Linked DNA regions of Homo sapiens. The protein of the gene in region 1 purifies or fractionates together with the protein of each later gene. This does not show direct contact. Each region holds a gene or a part of one and is shown on either strand. Other genes may lie near its edges.

The links. The genes of interacting proteins can lie anywhere in the genome.
Region 2: the proteins of PACSIN2 (region 1) and COBLL1 purify together in Homo sapiens (affinity purification with mass spectrometry; 4 studies listed by BioGRID and IntAct, with this or other methods). This does not show direct contact.
Region 3: the proteins of PACSIN2 (region 1) and MPRIP purify together in Homo sapiens (affinity purification with mass spectrometry; 4 studies listed by BioGRID and IntAct, with this or other methods). This does not show direct contact.

What each region holds. Positions count from the first base shown.
Region 1 is NC_000022.11:42,872,128-42,879,150, reverse strand, and holds part of PACSIN2 (protein kinase C and casein kinase substrate in neurons protein 2), read left to right. Parts: coding exon 1-103; intron 104-2,140; coding exon 2,141-2,263; intron 2,264-2,817; coding exon 2,818-3,014; intron 3,015-3,620; exon of another isoform or gene 3,621-6,659; intron 6,660-6,691; exon of another isoform or gene 6,692-7,023.
Region 2 is NC_000002.12:164,838,812-164,846,277, reverse strand, and holds the start of COBLL1 (cordon-bleu protein-like 1), read left to right. Parts: upstream 1-4,454; 5' UTR 4,455-4,568; intron 4,569-4,845; exon of another isoform or gene 4,846-5,031; coding exon of another isoform or gene 5,032-5,081; coding exon 5,082-5,122; intron 5,123-5,455; exon of another isoform or gene 5,456-5,529; intron 5,530-7,466.
Region 3 is NC_000017.11:17,157,446-17,164,468, forward strand, and holds part of MPRIP (myosin phosphatase Rho-interacting protein), read left to right. Parts: intron 1-986; coding exon 987-1,557; intron 1,558-3,794; coding exon 3,795-3,911; intron 3,912-6,663; coding exon 6,664-7,023. UniProt on the Homo sapiens protein: Targets myosin phosphatase to the actin cytoskeleton. Required for the regulation of the actin cytoskeleton by RhoA and ROCK1.

The DNA.
Region 1 (7,023 bases):
ATCGAACCCTCAGCCGGAGAGAGAAGAAGAAGGCCACTGACGGCGTCACCCTGACGGGCATCAACCAGACAGGCGACCAGTCTCTGCCGAGTAAGCCCAGCAGGTGAGTGGGCGCCACCTCCATCCAAAAGAGGCCGTTCCATGGTGGGGGCCCTGGGCAATCTGCATGGTCCAGGGCAGCCCCGGCCTGGACACCTGGGAGGTTCCTGGGCTCCTGAGCTCTGTGGGCCGTGGCCCAGCCTGGACACCTGGGAGGTTCCTGGGCTCCTGAGCTCTGTGGGCCGTGGCCCAGGGGCATCTCCAGGGAAGGTCGTCTTCCTGCCTGGTGCCAGAGCTGCTGACAGATCCAGAGAGGGAGGCTTGGCCCTGAGCTTCAGACCTGAGTGGGGAGGAGCTGATGACAGGGCTGGCATTCATGTCCCCAGGGATAGCACCGCCCTGCCCGGACACTGGTGGAGGTGCCACCCTGGTTCCCTCAGGCAGCTGAGGTCCTGCCGAGGTTCATGCTCACTCTGTATTGTGTGCAGGCGCCAGTCGAGGGAGGGACAGGAGAGGACTGCCAGGCATCTCCTTTCCAAATTACCTCTTCACTAGGAGCATTGGTTATTTCTGACTTAGTCATTGGCTGAAAATGAGAGATATAAGGGTGGCACTGTGGTCATTAGAACCTTCTGGAAAGTGTGTGCTAGAGGAGGTCTTCCTATAGGACCTGCCCACAGGCCTCCATGTGACACTCAGTAATAGTCATTTCATACGGGGGCTTCCTAAGAAGGCTTAGCCCAGGTTCCCTTGGCCTTCCTGCAGCCCCAGGCACTGAAGCCCCCACCCAGGCTCCCCAGCAGGTGTGGCTGTCGTCATTCCGCTGCTTTGCACGCTGTCTGGGCAGGTGGGCTCGGCAGTAAGTGCCTGTCCCAGGGATCAGGCCAGCACCTGTATGCTTGGGGGTGGGAATGGGAAAGAAGAAACACTGCCTCAGAGGAGACCCTGGGGGCCCTGGGCTGGCCAGGGTTGCTGCACAATCCAGCCGCCCCCACCAGTGCCGTCTCACAACAGTCTGCTAGAGAAAGGTGCCAAGGAGGGAGGAGGGCCGGTGAGCTCAGACATGTGGCCTGGATATTGGCCTCCAGCAGGCCTAGGTCAAGTACCACTTGCCAGGCTGAAGTGGATGAGGCAGTTACTGGCCACTCAGGATCACCCTGGTGGCATTGGAGGCATGTCCTCGCCTCCCTTCCTTGGTTCTGGGGTGGTGGGTGCTCAGGCTGAGCAGTCCATCCAGTGCTTTGGGGGCCTGTGCCCTGAGGCCCTGGTCTTGGAAGTAGAAGGTGCTGCTGGCCAGGGTAGCCCGGTCCTAGGATCAGTTACTTGGTGGGGTGCCAGGGCCCTTGGTGCCTGTCTGATTGGATTGCTTGATGGTCTGCCTGTGGTCTTCGTAGTGTGTAACTCAGCTCCCGGCTCCCAGCCCTCAGGCAGAGCTTGGCCCAGATCTCTCTGGTTCCCACACTGGGCCTGGCAAACAGTAGGCAGTTGCACGACTGGATTTTCCCTCTGGAGCACCAAAGGAATCTTCTTTCTATCTAGAAAAGACGGTGCCGCAGGCCCTGGCCCTGATTTTGGAGGCTTCAGCTCCACAGAGCAGAAGAGCGAGCCCTGAACCCCTTAGTAGTCAGGAGGAGGCCGTGTGGGCTGAAGAGCTCAGAGCCCTCTCCCACTCATCCATGGGAGCCGGCCCCTCCCACACTGTCACTCTCAGAGGAGACCCTGAGGGGCTTTTTGACCCCCCCAGCTCACATTGGTGGGAGTCAGGACAGAGGAGAAGCCCTGAACCTGGAAACGACTTTTGCTCCAGCTGTGGCTTGTCACCCGCCCCTGGGCCACCCCAGGGCCCCTGTTCTGGACGGACTGTCTCCAGGTGCAAGGAAGGAAAAGGGAAACCAAGTCCTCTCCTAGGCTCCTGGACCGTGTTTCACAGCTGAAGTATTGCCCGCATTCTGCCATAGTAACCTTTCTGTTGAAACACCACGGTCCCCTCCGGTCACAGGAGGAGCTGATTTGTCTCTTGAGATCCTGCAGCTAGGAGTTGCCAGGACCCTCACGGGCCCCTGCAGAGCTGGGATCCCCTGAAAGCTCTCTCTCTCCATAGCACCCTTAATGTCCCGAGCAACCCCGCCCAGTCTGCGCAGTCACAGTCCAGCTACAACCCCTTCGAGGATGAGGACGACACGGGCAGCACCGTCAGTGAGAAGGACGACACTAAGGCCAAAAAGTTGGTGAACAAATGCTTCCTCTGCTCCCACCGCGCTCACTCTGTCTCTCTTCCTCTCTCTCTGTCCAGGGGTCTCACCCCTCGGCACTCGGCAATGCACGGAGCTCTGCAGGAAGTGGGCACCTGGCGTGCCGCACCCTGGCCCACTACCTGCTCTCTGGCACAGGCTCTCTGGCACCCCCATTCCTCGGGGAGGGCACAGCTAACAATCTTAAGTTGCTTTTTCTCTGTCCTCTGTTAACCCTTCAAGGCCCTAGCAGCACCATGACAGGAAAACAGACAACGCGCAGTCTGTGCTGGGGACTAGAGAGTGAGGCCCCAGGTTGGCCTCTGCTGTGGGCATCTCCAGCCGCCTGCCCCTGGAAAGCCTGTTGATGGCTCAGGATGAGTGTGGATGGCATGAACTCACACTAGCACTGGCTCCACCTGTGCTCCTTCGGAAGGAGCCCTCAGCCCTGAGCCCCAAGGCTCCAGTGCCCTCCCCTTGCGGGGCGGGGGCCTCACACCCTCTGCCGCCCTGTGCTGAGGGCCCTGTGGCCTCCCCTTTCTTGCAGTGTGAGCAGCTACGAGAAGACCCAGAGCTATCCCACCGACTGGTCAGACGATGAGTCTAACAACCCCTTCTCCTCCACGGATGCCAATGGGGACTCGAATCCATTCGACGACGACGCCACCTCGGGGACGGAAGTGCGAGTCCGGGCCCTGTATGACTATGAGGGGCAGGAGCATGATGAGCTGAGCTTCAAGGCTGGTAGGTGGGCTCCCCCAGCATCCAGGGGAGGAGGGCTTCCAACCTGCAGGCTGTGGGCGGTCTTTTTTGTTTTTTAAGTCTGGAAAAGTTCTTGCTAGTTTCACTTGTGAGTCACTGCAGGCCCTTCCCCAGTGCCCTGGCTTCATTGTCAAAAGCAGCCAATTGGCTGGATGTGGTGGCTCATGCCTATAGTCCCAGAGCTTTGGGAGGCCGAGGTGGAAGGATCGCTTGAGCCCAGGAGTATGAGACCAACCTGGGCAAAATGGCAAAACCTGTCTCTACAAAAAATACAAAAAATTAGGCCAGGCATGGTGGCTCACGCCTGTAATCCCAGCACCTTTGGGAGGCCAAGGCAGGCAGATCACTTGAGGTCAGGAGTTCGAGCCCAGCCTAACCAACATGGTGAAACCCTGTCTCTACTAAAAATACAAAAATGAGCCAGGCGTGTGGCGGGGCATCTATAATCACAGTTACTCAGGAGGCTGCGGCAGGAGAATCACTTGAACCTGGGAGGTGGAGGTTGCAGTGAGCCAAGGTCACACCACTGTACCCCAGGCTGGGTGACAGAGCAAGACTTTGTGTCAAAAAAAAAAAATTAGCTGGGCTAATTTTAGTGGCACATGCCTGTAGTCCCAGCTCTCTGGGAGGCTGAGGTGGGAGGATCACCTGAGCCCAGTAGATTGAGGTTGCAATGAATCATGATTGTACCACTATACTCCAACCTGGACAACAGAGCGAGACCCTGTCGCAAACAAACAAACAAATAAATAACCTGGGCAACAGAGCGAGATCCTGTCTCAAATAAATAAACAAACAAAAGTAGCAGATTAGCTGGGCGTGGTGTTGCATACCTATAGTCCCAGCTGCTTGGGAGGCTGAGGCAGAGGATCACTTAAACCCAAGAGGATACAGTGAGCCATGTTCATACCACGTACTCTAGCCTAGAAGAGAGAGCAAGACCCCATCTCTTAAAAAAAAAAAAAAGTAGGCTGGGCATGGTGGCTCACGCCTGTAATCCCAGCACTTTGGGAGGCCGAGGCACACAGATCACGAGGTCAGGAGATTGAGACCATCCTGGCTAAGAGTGTGAAACCCCGTCTCTACTAAAAATACAAAAAATTAGCCGGGCGTGGTGGCAGCCGCCTGTAGTCCCAGCTACTCGGGAGGCTGACGCAGGAAAATTGCTTGAACCCGGGAGGCGGAGCTTGCAGTGAGCCGAGATTGCGCCACTGCACTCCAGCCTGGGCGACAGAGCAAAACTCTTTTTCAAAAAAAAAAAAAAAAGCGGATGCCCAATGCCAAGACTCAGAAATAGTGAGGTGCTGCCAAGCCAGTGCCTGGACTCCTCACCTTGCTGGGCCAAGGCTGTGAATTGCAGGGCACTGGCTAGTCACACAGAAGGGCATCTGGAGAAGCTGTTGGCCAGGACCACCAGGTTCCCCCATATGTAGTCTGGGAGCTGCTAGCCCCGCAGGGCCATGAGAGAAGCCTTTCTCTAGGGGTCCCCAACTGCCAGAGAAGCCCTCAGGAGAGCCACAGCTTTGCCCAGACCCCAGAGTAGCACTTGGCATGCCCCTGGGCCAGGTGGGGCCTTGTCTCAGGCAGCAACTTGTGTGTGTGCACACCTACCTGCCCACACCTACCATGCACACACCAACCCACACACATATCTGTGTTGCTAGGAGCAGAAACCATAGTTTTATAAAACAGCCTGGATCCTGATTACATGTGCTCTGCCTGTGAAGACTTTCTGTGCAATGTCTTTTTCTTCTTTGAATGGTCTTCAATGATAATCTTTTTTTTTTTTTTTTTTAATAGAGACACGGTCTCACTCTGTTAGCCAAGCTGGGTTACAGTGGTGCGATCATAGCTCACAGCAGCTGCAGCCTTGATCTCCTGGGCTCAAGCAGTCCTCCCACCTCAGCCTCCTACGTAGCTGGGACCACAGATGTGTGCTACCACCCCACCCACTATAGGAATCTTTTTTAATGCATTTGCAGTTTACCAAAATGGCTTTTCACATCTTCAATTTGAAAAGTGTTATCTTGTCCGGGCACGATGGCTCACACCTGTAATCCCAGCACTTTGCGAGGCCAAGGCCGAAGGATCACTTGAGGTCAGGAGTTTGAGACCAGCCTGGCCAACATGGTGAAACCCTGCCTCTATTAAAAAATAAAAAAATTATTCAGGCATGGTGGCACACACCTGTAATCCCAGCTACTGGGGAGGCCAAGAGAATCACTTGAACCTGGGAGGTGGAGGTTGCAGTGAGCTGAGATCATACCACTGCACTCCAGCCTGGGTGATGGAGTGACACTCTGTCTCAAAAAAAAAAAAAGGAAAGAAAATTGCTATCTTAGCACCTAAGGAAGCTGGAGTGGCCTAGGGCCAAAGTGGACCCACAGCAACCCAGATTCTTCCCTCTCTTGCCCTCTTTGTGAAGCTCCCCCAGAAGCAGCATCTACCACTCCAAGAGGGAAGCTGGGCCAGAACTCAACCCACACAGGCTGAAGTGTGCCCTTGCCCCTAGGCTACACTTGTGGGAAAGGCTGCCTTACCACCACCACCCCAACCCCTGACTCAGCAGGGAAGCCAGGGCCTGGGGGCTGTGCCCAATGGCCTAGCTTCTAACCAGTCTTCAGCCTCCTCCCCTCAGCACCCAGAGTGCCAGCCTGCTGTCCCCAGACACTCTTCCCCTGGGCTGGTTATCAGCTGCCTCTGCCCAGTTTGAGAAGTTGGGTTTTTTTGTTTTTTTGGATTTTTTTTTAATGTGCCTTTAAGCCATCTTCATCCAGTTTCTGATATCTTTGGTTGGGGTTGTTACCCCCGACTTTGTTGGTTTATTTGTTTATAATTTCTAACTCCTTTTCAATCCTGCCTATTGGGTTTGACAGTAATTTTGTAGATTTAAAATGTTTCTTCCAGATCCAAGTAAATTGTCAAAAGCAAACTGATTGAAATGAACCTTCTAATCACCAGTTCACATTTGCACAATGTGAAAGCTTTCCTGTCCGTTCTATTTTCTGTGTTATCCTGCTTTTTAACAATGCAAAATTAGCTCCCAGCCAGTGTGGCTTGACTTACGTCTCTTGCGGTGTTCTGGCTGTTTGCCACATGGTAGTGTGGGGTTACAGGCCTCATCCTAGCCTCGGTAGCCTGGATCCAGGCCTGTGAGAGCACAGCAACCAATGAAGGCAGGACAAAAGAAACGCCAGGGGCCCGAGGCACGAAGCGGTGGAAAGAGATGGTGGTTCATCGTGGCTGCTGCCCTGTGGCCCCTGCATCTGCTCCTGATGCCTCTGGGTTAGATCTGCAGGCGCACTGGTCTGGCAGAAGCGGCACGACAGTGGGAGGCTGAGCCAGTGCTTACGCATGTCCCACCCTCCCAGGGTTCTTTAGTGTCTTAACACTTAATCTTCACAGTACCCCCAGTCCACAGATGAGGGCCACAGGCCCAGGGAGTGGACGCAGTTGGTCCAGGTCTCCCAGCCAGTGAGTGATGGCTGTGGGATTTGAGCCCAGGCAGTCCGGGGAGCACTGGAAGCCCCAGGTATTAGCTCCGCAGGCATGTTGACCAGCATTGCTGCCATACAAAATCCAAAGCATCAGGGAAATGCTAAACCAGGGGGAAAACTGCATCTAATTCTGAAAAATGGACCAAAAAATGCCAAAGAGAGTTACAAAACTTCAAACTTAGCAATAAAGGCAAAACAGCACTGGGACTATTTCTTTCCCACCAATTGCTTGCTCCTGACGAGGTCCGAGCCAGCAGGCCCAACTGGCCTTCCCTGCAGTGAGTTACCAACCAGAAGCACACAGGCCCCTGCCCACCCCTGGGCTCTGAGCTGCTCTGCTTCCCTAACCTGGCAAATGCCAGACCTGGGGCCCTACCCTAGTGCCACCTCCCCCTCACCACCCTAGTCTGCCTCCTTGAGACCAGGATCCATCAGTTCCTCTCATCTCTGTATCTCCTCTTCTACCCAAGGCCTGGCCAGAAGTAGGAGGTCCT
Region 2 (7,466 bases), on another chromosome or scaffold:
AAACAAAATCAAAAATTTTTTTTCATGAATAGACATTTCTGTGTTAAGGAAACTATAATATTTCAACAAACATATCTGTTGAGTTTATTCTTACCTACTAATTGTTGGTCAGTTTGAAAAAAAGGCATTAAAATAAGATTACAAATTGGAATAGGAGGGAAGGGAAAAGGAGATATACCCGTGATAAAGACAGCAGTGGCTAATTACAAAACCTGGCCCAGGATTCCTGACAGCCAAAGAAAATATTTTTGGTACTTTGAAATAAAGCTCTCATGAAGCATTTATATAGGGAACATCAAATTCTAACAACACTTTCTATGTGTTAATACATGTAGGAATACTCAAATTATGAAAGCACTACACAGAGATGAATGGATAATTAACTATTATGCATATATTACTGAATTGAGAATAAAGCTACAATTCTGACTTTCAGCTCCCTGTTTTCATCAACAAAGTCTTATGCATAAATAACATAACATATTTTCTGAGATTGGGCAGTTTCTATGAAATACAAAGTCTGAAATAAGACTTTTATTAAAACTGAAATGTAACAACTCTGATCTTGTTATATAAAACCACAAACACACACATGTACACAATCTAAGAAGACATAAAATAAACACTTCCTTTAGGTTGTAATGTGCAAAGGTGAAATGCACAGAAAGATATTAACCATCTTTTAAGTGTAATTTTTCAGTTTTAAATAAAGCTTTTCAAGTGGTACTTATAGTGGAATAAAAACATACTTAAAATAAGCATTTAAAAATGTTTTCATTATTCCAAATAGTTTACAAAAATTTTAGACAAACTCCAACCATTATGGCCCACTTTAACATGCCTATCTGCTTTTTATATAAGCACACAGGTATTTATTAAGCATGTAAACCTCCTTTCCATTTATTACTATCCAGGAGGAATATGAAACCTAGATTATTATTCAGAGAGATATATAGCTAAGTGGACCTTCATTTAGCTTCATTCTACCCATTGATTTTGGTACTAACCCCATTAGGTAACCACGTGAAGAATAAGTCTTCTTTCTCTAGTAAGACAAACTCACCTTCCATCTGTTCCATTTAAAATGGCCTACCAGCCCCTTTGAGTTGAAGTCTTTCCCTGAATCAAGTTCCTTTTAGGATTCTTCTGAGGAGGGAAGGCCTGAAGGTTTCCTTCATTCCTTTATTCAGTACACAAATACTGGTGGAGAGTCTCCTGTGTTCTGGGCTATGCTTTCAGGAGACAAAGGATAAGACGTGGTCCTTTAAGAGTAGGCTGGGCACTGTGGCTCACGCCTATAATCCCAGCACTTTGGGAGGCCGAGGCAGGCGGATCACAAGGTCAGGAGTTCAAGACCAGCCTGGCCAACATGGTAAAACCCCATCTCTGCTAAAAATATAAAAAATTAGCCGGGCACGTGGCACATGCCTGTAGTCCCAGCTATTCGGGAGGCTGAGGCAGGAGAATCACTTGATCCTGGGTGGTGGAGGTTACAGTGAGCCAAGATCATGCCACTGCAGTCCAGCCTGGGTGACAGTGAGACTCTGTCTCAAAAAAAAAAAAAAAAGAGAATAAACCCCTCCAACTCTGCATTATGTAAATGAATAACTGAAACAAAGTGTCATGGGTCCTTGCCCTACCTAACAGAACCTACTGGGGGCCAAGAAAGGGAAGGGCTACTTCTATTTCTGCAATGAGGGAAGTATTCCTGAGGGGATAATACCTATGCTTAGGCACTTAAAATGATCGGCTGGGTGGTGAAATGAGGGGGAGATTCCCAAACGGGGAAATTGAGCGCAATCTTGGAAACGTGGGCAATTTTGAAACAGCTCTGCATAACTAGAAAGATTGGAAAACAGCAGTTTTCTCCTGTTATGTGAAAAGATTTATAGCAGCCAGGCATGGTGGCTTATGCCTGTAATTCCAGCACTTTGGGAGGCTGTGGTGGGCAGATCACCTGAGGCCAGGAGTTCGAGACCAGCCTGGCCAACATGGTGAAACCTTGTCTCTACTAAAAATATAAAAATTAGCCAGGCGTGGTGGTGGTCACCTGTAATCCCAGCTACTCGGGAGGCTGAGGCAGGAGAATCACTTGAACCCCAGAGATGGAGGTTGCAGTGAGCCGAGATCGCATCACTGCACTCCAGCCTGGGCAACAGGAACAAGACTCCTTCTCCAAAAAAAAAAAAAAAAAAAAAAAAAAGATTTATAGCAAATCTGTGATTATTATTTTGCTAATCACTGGCTACAGTGAGGATAGCTTAGTACCATTATGTGAAGACCACCAAGCTTGGTGGTGCTCTTAAGTGGTTTTGCCCAACATGAGCTTATTTCTTGCTTATGTGGATTCTGTTGTAGGTCCTGGGACTCTCCAGGGCAGCTGTGCTCTGGGTAATAGTTTAGCATTCCAGTCTTGTGTCACCTTCATTTTAATACATGCTTTCATGATTGCAGTAGCAAAGGAAGGGAACATAGAGACTCAAACACTGGCAGTAATTTCACCAGGAAATAAAGCATTTCATGTCTGTTCACATTTCCACTTATCAAAGTCACAGGGTCATACCTAATTTCCATGGGGTGGAGCATATAGTTCTCCCTAGGACCAGAAGGAGGACAGCAAAAAGTGGTAAGCACTGAAAATGCCTTCAGTGGTTACGAAATGTTATGAATGTTTTATGACTAAGATTAGCCTAATCTTACTGGTATTAGGGTCCATAATATTACTAGTATGTCATAAATTAAGGCTGAAACTAATTAAAGATTTAATCTTGTCTTGTGATTGAAAGTTATGGACTTTCAAGTAGTTTCACTGTTACTCAATATTTGCATCATTGTCTGTGCAAGCAACTGTAAAAGCTTGCACAGCTCTGTATTCAGAAGCATAAATGATTCATGAAATTGTTTAAACAGAGTTATTGTTTAAAGACTAAAACCCAGAGGTATTTAAATAAATTGCTTTACTCTTAGTTAAAATCTCTAAAAGCAACTTTTTCTAATATGGTTCCAGTATTGTAATCCAAATGAGCCATGTGTTTTTTTCTTTTCATATTTAAGATGCACTGAAAGGACATTATGCACTGAAAGAAATAAATACCAATGCCTGCGTGTGGTAGACAAATGGCACATTGCTAGGCATTTAGTTCAGCAATCTTTTTTTGTTGCTGCAATGGATAACCAACTAAAGGAGCATTAATATCAATTTAATTGTAATACCTGCCAAATGTTATTCTATCAGTGGCTAACACAGGTTTATTACTTGATGTTAGTGCTACAACAGAAGTCCCCTGCAGGATGTTCCTTCCTGTAAGATCTCTCCATCAGTTTAATCCAAATATGTTTTTAAAACTCTAATTTTAAATTCATTTCTTAATGTCACGTTGTTTTCTGAAAACACATTTTTGGGCCCATCAGAATGGCGCGCATCTTAAAACAATTGGCGCTTATGAAAAATATAAAATATGTAAATATATTAGGGTGGTGCAAAAGTAATTGCGGTTTTGTCATTACTTTTTAAAAAAAAAAAAAATGGCAAAAACCGCAGTTACTTTTGCACCAACCTAGTACCTGTCTGTCAGGTGTAAAGAATCATCTAAAGGGCATGCACGTGGATACTAAAACGTACAAACAAGCACACAGCTGTGTCTGATTCCTTTACCCTTGTAAAAGTTCCAATAAGTGAATACAATCTATTACTTAATTCTTAGTTTATAGACTGTCATTAGACATACTGTTGTCCAGTTCTCATGTCAGAGCTGTTATAGGCTTTTACAAAAAATGCCTCTGAAGACAGGGCAAGCTTAAACCTGCCACCAATTAGAAAGATCTGTGTCACAGGTGCGCTTTTAAAAGAATGGCAATCTTAAAGGTCAAGTTAAAAACACAAATTTAAAAAAACGATCCTGGACGTCGAGGGTCGGACTCTAGGGGGGGCAAGCTGCAGGCCCCACTCTGCGAGTTTCTGACCGCATTCCGCGGAGGCCCCAATCCTCCCCGCGGATCCTGGCAAGGCAGGTAACCTCCCTTCCCCCGCACCTGTCCGGTTCAGGCGCACCAGCCTTCCCGAAGCGCAGCCTAGCGGTGGGAATGGGAACACCTCGTCTGGGAGCTTTCTTTCGGTTCAGCTTCCCCAGCCGGACCCCAAAGACCCGAAGCCCTGGGGGAAGGAAATTCCAACTTGCTCCCGGCCCACCCCCGCCCCGTTCCTCTCTCCGGCTCGCTGCTTCCCTCGCTCCAATGCCGCCGAGCTGGTCCCCACTTATGTGCGGCCGTGCTGCAGAGGCGGCGGCGAGCTCCCGGACTCCGGGCAGGGAAATGGGGCAGGGTGAGTGAGAGAGCGGGCTCCAGCGAGGCCCCCAGCGCCCAGCCAGCGCCCGCACCCCGCCCGCGGGACAGGGGAGGTGCTGAGTCGGCCCTGCCCGCGCTGGGCTGAGCCTCGCAGGGGTTGCCGCTTCTCCATTCAAGTCCTGGCTTGAGAGCCGAGCGGCAAGAGCGCGGGCCGGGGAAGGGAAGAGTAGGAGAGGAAGCCGCGAGGGAGAACAGGCGAGCTACTGTCTCCTTTGGAAAAGAACGTAGGAGCCTTGGGTGGGAAAAGAGAGATCAGCCCTCCCAACTTCTCTTCGGGAAAAGTTTTCCTAGGGCGTTTTGTTTGTGCAAACTCGGCCGGAGGAGCCTGGGAGTGCGCTGCCGGCGTGGCAGCGGTGCCCGTGCGCCCGGCCCCGCTCCTCCTCCTTTTCCAGCCCCGGCGGCTCCTCTCCCTCCGAGAGGCGCCAAATGGCTACCCAGTAAACCCCACGGGGCGGGGGCTGCAGCGCCACCGCCTCCTCCGCCGTGCTCTGGGCGCCCGCTAGACCTTGTAGAGACGGCGGCGGCGCCCGCGGGCTGGGAGCCGGGGCCCGCAGGTGGAAGCGCACCCGGGAGGCGGGCCGGCCGGGGCTGGAGCGGCTCGGGCGGGCTCTTGACGCTCAGCCAGCTTCGCTCCGGCCTCGGGAAGGCGCGCGTCCCGCCCTGACCCGCCGGCCTCTCCCACCCCAGCAGTGACGCGCCGCCTGGGAGCTGGAGCCCGCGCAGCGCCCCGCAGGGCGATGGACGGCCGAACCCCGCGCCCGCAGGACGCCCCAGCCAGGTAAGCCCAGAGCGCCGCGCCGCCTCTCACCGGGGAGGGCGAGGCCGGCGAGGACAGCGAGGCCTCGGCCGTTTCACCTGGCTGGCAACTCGCTGCCCTGCCGGCGGCCTGACTCACTGACTGTCCTCCACGCGGCCGGGGAGGCTGCTTCCTCCCGGCCTTCTCGGAGGCCGCCCGGGCGGAGGGCTCGGGTCGTTTTTGGTTGCCTTCCTACCGGGGCTGCCCTGGGTTGCTACAGGCCAGCTGAATGCCAGGAATTGGGTGAGGAGTCCGGGAGCAAAAATTGTAACAAAGGGACCCTTGTTTGGGCTCTGGGGGAGCGGTGGACGATACCTGTAAGTGAGCTCCTGGGGAGGGAGGGCAAAAGTTTCCTTGGTCATGGGCTGAGGCCCAGGCAGGTGAGCAATGTCAAGGTGACTGTAGGGAGTGGGCTTTCTGCAGGCGGGTGGAGGGCGACAGGAGGGTGTGCCAGCTGTCAGCCCGCATGACAGTTCCGGGAGCGAGCGGGGTGCGCGCCTCTGATTGGGGGTGTGTGTGCCTGTGGCCAATTGCTGGTTCCAAAACCCAGCGCAAATCAGATTGCAAACAACTCTACTTTTCTTTTTATCCTCACATGTTTGAGAAGAGAGGAAGGGGGCTGTCACATGGTGAGTTAATATTAAATGAGGCATGTCTTCCTGCCAGATATGCTAATAGTTACCTTGTTAAGCGTTTGAGTAAACAGTAATGAGAACAGGTAGTTCTGCAAGAGATGAAGAAAACCTGAAAATAACCTTGGTCTTAGTAAATAGTTCAGGAGTAACCTGGATGCTAGTTGAGTTTCTCAAGTAGGAAACTCGTTTGATGTAGTACAAGATTTTTCCCCCCAGCATAAGTGTTCCTCCAACATAGTTTATTTTCTTAGTTAATCTGAATGCAGAAATGCCCTAATGAGAATACGAGCATTCCAGAAATAGAAACGTTAAGGAAAAATCGACGTTGTCACTAATGAATGAGACTTGTACAGTTTTCCTGATTTAAGAGTGTAGAAGTCATTTTTCCCTGGAACATGACAGGCGTTTCCTTAGAAGCAAGTCACAGCATGTTTATTCATCAGAGACCATGCGAACATTGGCAGCTGTCTAGAGGAAACATGGAAAAGTCTCAAAGCAACATGACTAATCTAAAAGATATTTAGTATAATTTTTACATAGAGGAAACATGTAGTGTATTAATTATTTCATTTTGCTCAAATTAACTTTCTCCTTTCTGCAAATATTACTCCCACTGTTGACTTTCATTTCTTTTCTTTCCCCAGGTTTTTCATTGCTTAAATATTTTCATATATCCTGACATATATTCTCACATTAGGATGAGTAAAGAAATATATCGGTAGAAAGATATTGAGCATACAAGCAAGGTTCCTAAGTGGAGCTGCAAAATTATGTGAATTGACGATGAGACAGCTGTCAGGATACCGAAATGTATTCAGGGATTGCAAAATGAGATAGAATTAAATTGGATTTGGAAATGGATTAGGTTAAGGTACTTTAAAAAACAAAAAAGAAAGAAAAACATACCTGCTTTCACAAAATACACCCATGGGTGTTCAGAAGTCACTGGGGACTTTTAAGTAAAATAGGTGAGGTCAGATGGCTCTGTGTTGAAGAAACAGAAGAACACTTTTTGCTGGCAAGCATAACTGTAGTAAGAACCTTCAGACTTTACTCTTGATATTTTATTTTAATGTAGAGACAAGGTCTTGCTATGTTGCCTAGTTGATCCGAAACCCCAGGCTTCAAGCAATCCTCTCACCTTGGCTTCCCAAAGTGTTGGGTTTACCAGTATGAGCCAGTGCGCCCAGCCACTTTTGAGAATTTAAAGGTTAAACTGATAAGTTCTTTGCTTAAAAAGAAAGTACAAAAGAGCCTTATCTAATTTGTCAAGCATTTGTAAAGGACTTTTGCCGTCCCCTTTTCAAATTTAAGTAGGGAAAATCTGTCAACACCTTATCTAAAATAACACAGTAGTTCTATCATTTTGCCTTACATTATTCTACTCAGAGAAGTTATCATTACCTGAAAAATATCAACATGAAAAAATTACCTCTCTACTTCATTTGTCTTATTTCACTTGTCTAACTTGTCCTTTGGCATATTCCGAATGCCTGTCATATAAGATTTGTTGAATATTTAATATTCAGTATTGCTTCTCTTCTCTCTCAAAAACCCAAATTATAAAAGGTTTAAACTGGGGGAAAAATATCTAGATAAGGGTATTTGGGAAGTGGCAGGCAGAAATCTTAATATGTTATAATTGTTAGGTTTTGGAGATAAATTTCTTGCTATAAAACTGACTAATTATA
Region 3 (7,023 bases), on another chromosome or scaffold:
TGGCCACCTGGGCCTCCTGTTTCCCTCACCCTTAGGAGGTCCCAGTCTTTCATACTGATCCATCTGTCATGCCAGCAGCTGGATTGGGCTTTTAAAACATAGATTCAGGCTGGGCACAGTAGCTCACGCCTGTAATCCCAGCACTTTGGGAGGCAGGCGGATCACCTGAGGTCAGGAGTTTGAGACCAGCCTGGCCAACATGGAGAAACCCCGTTTCTACTAAAAATACAAAATTAGCCAGGCATGGTAGCGCATGCCGGTAATCCCAGCTACTTGGGAGGCTGAGGCAGGAGAATCGCTTGAACCCAGCAGGCAGAGGTTGTGGTGAGCCGAGATCGCGCCATTGCACTCCAGCCTGGGTAACAAGAGTGAAACTCCATCTCAAAAAAAAAAAAAACAAAACATAGATCTGATCACGTTACCTGCTTATTAAAAGGTAAGCCCTTCTAGAAAGTGCTAGTTTTCCCTCATTCTGTCACCACTGTCCAGTCCAGGGGTGCACAGGGCCCAGGCCTCACCTGGCAGGTACGGTGGCTGTGCCCAGGTGCAGCCTAATGTAGTTCTTGGCCCTGAGCAAGGCAGGGCTGGCCCGTCCTGCCTCTGAGGCTGTGGGAGTCCTGGGACTCCCCTGGCTCCATACCCTGGCAACGGGACCACCACAGTGAGCCCCTCACAGCCTCTTCAGTCAAGGGACCCCCCCAGTGTCATTATGTGGGAAACCTCAGCTTTCTGAGGCTCTTTTCCCTTCCTTTCCCCTTCCCCTCCCCGTCCCCCTCCCCCTCCCCCACTCAGAACCAGTTTGGGAAGGGATGTGGGGTAAAGGCAGAGTATTCCTGTCCTCCCTGCACTTAGGAAGCTGGGATTAGGATAGAAAAAGGATGTGGTGCTCACAGGGGCTGGGTTGTGGCTCAGCATTGCCAGCTTCTGCCTGGCAGGCCACACCAGAGCCGCCCCTGACAGGCTATGTCCATCCTCCTGCCCCACAGCTCGTTGCCAGAGGAAAAAAACAAGAGCAGCTGCTCTTTTGAGACCTGCCCGAGGCCTACTGAGAAGCAAGAGGCAGAGCTGGGGGAGCCGGACCCTGAGCAGAAGAGGAGCCGCGCACGGGAGCGGAGGCGAGAGGGCCGCTCCAAGACCTTTGACTGGGCTGAGTTCCGTCCCATCCAGCAGGCCCTGGCTCAGGAGCGGGTGGGCGGCGTGGGGCCTGCTGACACCCACGAGCCCCTGCGCCCTGAGGCGGAGCCTGGGGAGCTGGAGCGGGAGCGTGCACGGAGGCGGGAGGAGCGCCGCAAGCGCTTCGGGATGCTCGACGCCACAGACGGGCCAGGCACTGAGGATGCAGCCCTGCGCATGGAGGTGGACCGGAGCCCAGGGCTGCCTATGAGCGACCTCAAAACGCATAACGTCCACGTGGAGATTGAGCAGCGGTGGCATCAGGTGGAGACCACACCTCTCCGGGAAGAGAAGCAGGTGCCCATCGCCCCCGTCCACCTGTCTTCTGAAGATGGGGGTGACCGGCTCTCCACACACGAGCTGACCTCTCTGCTCGAGAAGGAGGTAATAGCCTGGGACCAGATCCCCACCCTGCTCCCAGCAGCCTTTCCAGAGCATCAGCTGTGCCCAGCTGTGGCCTGAGGGGTTCATCTAGACAGTCCTACCCGCGAGGGACTTGCAGACCCCTAGGGGAGACAGACGCATAGATGAGTCCTCATAGTTGAGGCAGACCTGAGAGCTGTGGGAGCGTGCCAGTGCATGCAGGGCAGGGAAAGGGGCCTTCCAGGCACAGAGGAATTCTTCCGATGGTGGGGGCCCCTGCCATTGAGAGGCAAGCGGCGTTGCAGGGCCTAGATGGTTTCCTCGTTCTGACTCCCGATGGCAGGAGGGGCGCGAGCAGGGCAAGGCTTTTGCATTACGCAGCCCTGGCTTGGACAGGTCAAAGCTGTAGGCAGAGACCAGCCCCAGGTGCTCTTACAGTGGCTTGGGGACGGCCGATCAGATCTGAAGCCAGGGGCATCCAGCAGGAGATGACAGCTGGGTCCTAGGTCATGAGGATATGAAGCAGAAGACAGTGGTGAGGCAGGGTAGGCTGTGGATGAAGGCTGCCCTGTGACTGTCACTCCTCCACGAGGCCTTCAGTGCACCTAGGTACATAGATGAACAAGCTGGCCCCCGAACTATAAAATAAGATGTTCTTTCATGGAAATGTATGCAGAAATCCAGTCTGCAGAACTTCAGTGGTAGATTGACATGTCTGGGCAGGGAGTCTCGTAGCTGGGGAGGTGTAGCGTTACAGTTTTTGTAGAACTCCCTGTTTCACTCTCCATTTAGGGACAGTTTTCAACACTGTGTTTCAAATGTGTTCTCTTACGTAAGTAGCTTGTTAAAGATTTGCCACTTGGGTATGCCTCAAGCTTCTCATCTTTTTTGTATTTTATTAACTGTATGAGGCTGAGTTACCACCAGCACTAATACTTGTACTTTTTCATTTTCCTCATCCATTAACAAGTAACAAAGGCAAGATGAAATAAAATAACAGTTGAAACTCACATTACTTCAGGCTACCAAAATGGGCCAGCCAGCAGGCGACACACTGGCTCAACAATCTGGGGGGTCAGTCTTCACTGTTTAAAAGTCAGGGGTCGGCTGGGCATGGTGGCTCACGCCTGTAATCCCGGTACTTTGGGAGGCCGAGGCGGGCGGATCACAAGGTCAAGAGATCAAGACCATCCGGCCAACATGGTGAAACCCCGTCTCTACTAAAAATACAAAAATTAGCTGGGCATGGTGGTGCATTCCTGTAGTCCCAGCTACTTGGAAGGCTGAGGCAGGAGAATCACTTGAACCCAGGAGGCAGAGGTTGCAGTGACCTGAGATCGCACCATCGTACTCCAGCCTGGCGACAGAGCGAGAGTCCATCTCAAAAAAAATAAATAAAAGTCAGGGGTCTCCCCGCCTCTCACAGCACAGTCTGTCAGCACCCTGGGCGGCACTGGCCTGACTGTCCACCACACACACAGCTCCATTCAGCACGAGCTCTGGGAGCAGGTTGGGTAGCCCTGCACATGGCCAGGCATCAGGAGGCACCTGGGAGGTGTGTAGGGAAGAGGTGGATGGATGAATGAGTAGCTGAAGCTGTTGAAAGCAAGAAGAGTGTAAAATAGCTTACTCATGGGTATCCACACCTTGTTTGAGGGAACTGCGGGAACTCTTTTTGCAAACAGAACTTTGTGGAATCCATCATGTAAAGCTGGTCAAATGGAGTGGTTTCAGTTGAGACCATAGTGGGCCCTGGAGTGAGGCCTGCTTGGGGCCACCACTCACAGTGGTCCCTGTAGAGCCTAGCCTGGCCTGTGTGACCAGCTGAGGACACCCAAAGGACCCCATGGGGTGCTTCCTCCAGATGCAGATGCAAAACCCTTGTTCCCCAGTGGACACATTCCCCTTCTCAGAAATGAACACCCCGTATGGGCCTTGGCACCTATATAGGGCGTGCATGTTGGAACCTTGAGCAGGTGTGGGAAGTATGTGGGCATCCAGGGGTGCCTGGAGTAGGGAAGGACAAGGTAGTCCCTTGGTGCCCATAAGGTACCAAGTCTGCCATTGTTACTGATGGCTTGCATTGGAACCTTCACTTCCAAATGCTGCTGGTAAAGGCCATATCAGCACATCTGCTGAAATGTGGAGACTCCAAAACTCTTGGGCCACATGGAAGACCAGTGAAAGAGTCTGTGCTGTGCAGCTGCTTTGTTTATCATTGTCATTTTGCATAAAAGTGTGTGTCTTTTTGCCAACAGCTGGAGCAGAGCCAGAAGGAGGCCTCAGACCTTCTGGAGCAGAACCGGCTCCTGCAGGACCAGCTGAGGGTGGCCCTGGGCCGGGAGCAGAGCGCCCGTGAGGGCTACGTGCTGCAGGTAGGGTGGAGGGGCTGCTGTGGCCCATGGTGCGCTCAGGAGCTTCAGTGTGAAGGGTTCATGCTCAGGCAGGCTAGGAGTGTGCAAAACTTGGCTGAGCAGGGGTGTCTCCCAGGAGCTCATGCCCCTGGGCTTTTCTGCCACAGGACTGGACACTCAATGTGCTTGGGGGGGTCTGTTTGTTTTTCCCTCCTGATATGACATTTTGGGGAATCTCCCTGAAACCTCTATATCTAAGGACTTTTTTTGGTAATAAAATGATTTTGGTGACCTTTCCCTTTGACTCTGAAAGTAGCCAATATACATTTATTGTAAATACCATACATTTGCATGTGATTTCTCATAGTTTTCACTATAGTAATATTGGACCTATTGTACAGATTGAAGACATTGAATCACACAGCAAGTCCAGTGCCTGCTTACAACCAACAGCAAGTCAGTGGCAAAGCTAGTACTGGACCCCATTCCCATCTGTTTCTATACCACACCTGGCAGGCAGAGCTGGGGCTCTTACCACTACTAGCCCAACCCCGGGATACCTCCACTGAGATCCTGTACCACAGAGCCCTGATATAGGGGTGTCACAAGGCTGGAGCTAGCCTGGCCCAAGGGCGTGCCTATGTCTGCTGACTTTCCTGCAGCGTGCCAGGCCTTGTGCCAGGTATTGGGCATAAAACAGATATACTCTTGTCCCCATTGAGTGGTAGAGGAGATTGTGATAGGAAGATTGATATATAAATACTGCAGGAGAAGTGAAGTGGGGTACCAGAACAGGGAGCCTAAGTTCTCGGCAAAGGCTGAGGGTATAACATTAGAATCAAGGTCCTAGGTTCAAGACTTGGCCCTGCTACTGACCCCCAAAGCAAGTGCATGTGTCCCCTCCTCTACAGCGGCAGTCTGCTGCCTGTGTAGACTTAGACCCAGTGATCCCTGAGGGCCCTTCCGGCTCTTAGACCCCGAGTCTCTGTCACGTATTGTCTACATTTGCAGACCGCAGTGCGCTGACCTTGGTCTGAGTTGTCCCAGGCAGCAGATGGAACAGGGGCACTCAGCTGGCCTCTGACCATAGTCTGCCTCTTTGCAGACTCTCTGCTGTTTCTTCTCCTGTGTGCTCCCTGGGCCTTCTCTTTCTTTCTGCCCCACATGCCCTAGACTCTCCTCTCCAGCCTCTTCTGCCATAGTCATTGCCATGCCCTGTTCAGACCTGGTGAACAGGGCCTCCCTGTGGGCCTCCCTGCCAAGGTCATTTGCGCTTGCCCTCCAGGTTTGAGGAGCATCTTTTTAATTCTTGATTGGGCCTCATCCTATAAGAACTGGCTTCAAATCAGGTAGTAAAGATAAAAGTTCAGCATCCCAAATTCGAAAATCTGAAATGCTCCAAAATCCAAAACTGAACGCTGACATTATGCTGAAAGGAAATGCTCACTGGAGCATTTCAGATTTTGGATTTTTGGATTGGGGATGCTCACCCAGTAAGTAGAATGCAAATATTTTAAAATCCGAAACAGTTCTTGTCCCAAGTATTTTGGATAAGGGATACTCAACTTGTACTAAGCAGCGGACTTTGCACATTGCTAACCTAGGAACCTACCTCTGTCTAACTTGCATAATTGCATGAGCCTACACTGAAGCCCCTGTTGGTCAGCACTGGGCAAAGCTGGTCTTTAATACCTTTTCCCTAAGTCTAATAACCTGTGACTTCTCACCACCCTTTATGCTTTGGAAATGCTTTTAATCACGACTCAGAATGAGCAGGGGGTCTGTGGGGTTAAGGGTCAGGAGCCAGCTACTGGGGTGGGTGCTATACTAACTGCTGGGAGGAGCTTGCATGATTTGGACATTGAGTGTGAAGTGTAACTTGAACTTAACATAACTGAGTGTCACATCTGTGGCTTCCCCGGCCAGCAGACCGAGAGGGAGCCATAGGCAGGCCAGATTCTTAGGCTGGGCTCGGCTCACTCTTGTTTGTGTTGTTTTTCCCTATATTAATGAGTTCTGTCTCTGCATGCCTTTCAGTGTGGGGAGTTTTGTTTCATTTACGTTGTGTTTTGTTTTTGCATGCTTCACTTTTTCTTATTTTGAACTCCACAAAGGTTTGTTTGTTTTGTTGATTATTGTATCTTACTCCATGGTTCCCGTTCCCCCCTCGTTTTGACTTCTTACAGGTAGAGATTAGTTCTTCCTGTTACTCTAGAGGACTGACTACACTTTCCACAGGAAAATGTTTGGATGTCACCTTGCTGACATCTCCCGAGTGTTACCTTCCTTCCTTCTCCTCCTGTCTTAGAAGGAAGTGGCATCATTTACCTACACCTTGTGTCCTGCGCTTGTTTAGGATTTGTTGTCAAGACTGCGTACTTTTTGTTTTGTGAAACAAACAGCTGCAGGTGCTGTGCTCCTCCCGCCTGTCCCTCTTCCTGGCGCTCTCTTGTCCTTTAGTCTTTGTTTTGCTTCTTAGTGTGTTCCATTATTCAGTTTTGTTTGGTTTATTTCTCCTAGAAGCTGTTTGGTTAAAGCTGTTTTCTGATGTTATTGTCCATGTTTTCTGTTTACCTGGAAGCAGCTACTTACTAAAAAAAAAAAAAAAGAAAATTTGTTGGATTTTTTTAATGGGAAAAAAAAATAAAGTTGTACAAAGGATAAAAGCCAAAGCCATCAAGGAGCTTTCTGTGGTTGTTCCTGGCCAGAGGTGTGACACTCAGAACTGGGAGGCCCGAGTGTTACTAACCAGTATTTAATCGGTTTTTTTAAGACTGAAGTGGCCGCCTCCCCATCGGGTGCCTGGCAGAGGCTCCATAGAGTCAACCAAGACCTTCAAAGTGAGCTTGAAGCCCAGTGCCAGCGCCAGGAGCTGATTACACACCAGATTCAGACCCTGAAGCGTAGCTATGGGGAGGCCAAGGACACGATCCGGCACCACGAGGCTGAGATCCGGAGCCTTCAGGCACGGCTCAGCAATGCGGCCGCTGAGCTAGCCATCAAGGAGCAGGCGCTGGCCAAGCTCAAGGGCGACCTGAAGCGGGAGCAGGGCCGGGTCCGCGAGCAGCTGGAGGAGCGGCAACACAGCGAGGCGGCGCTGAGCAGCCAGCTGAGGGCTAGCGAGCAGAAGCTC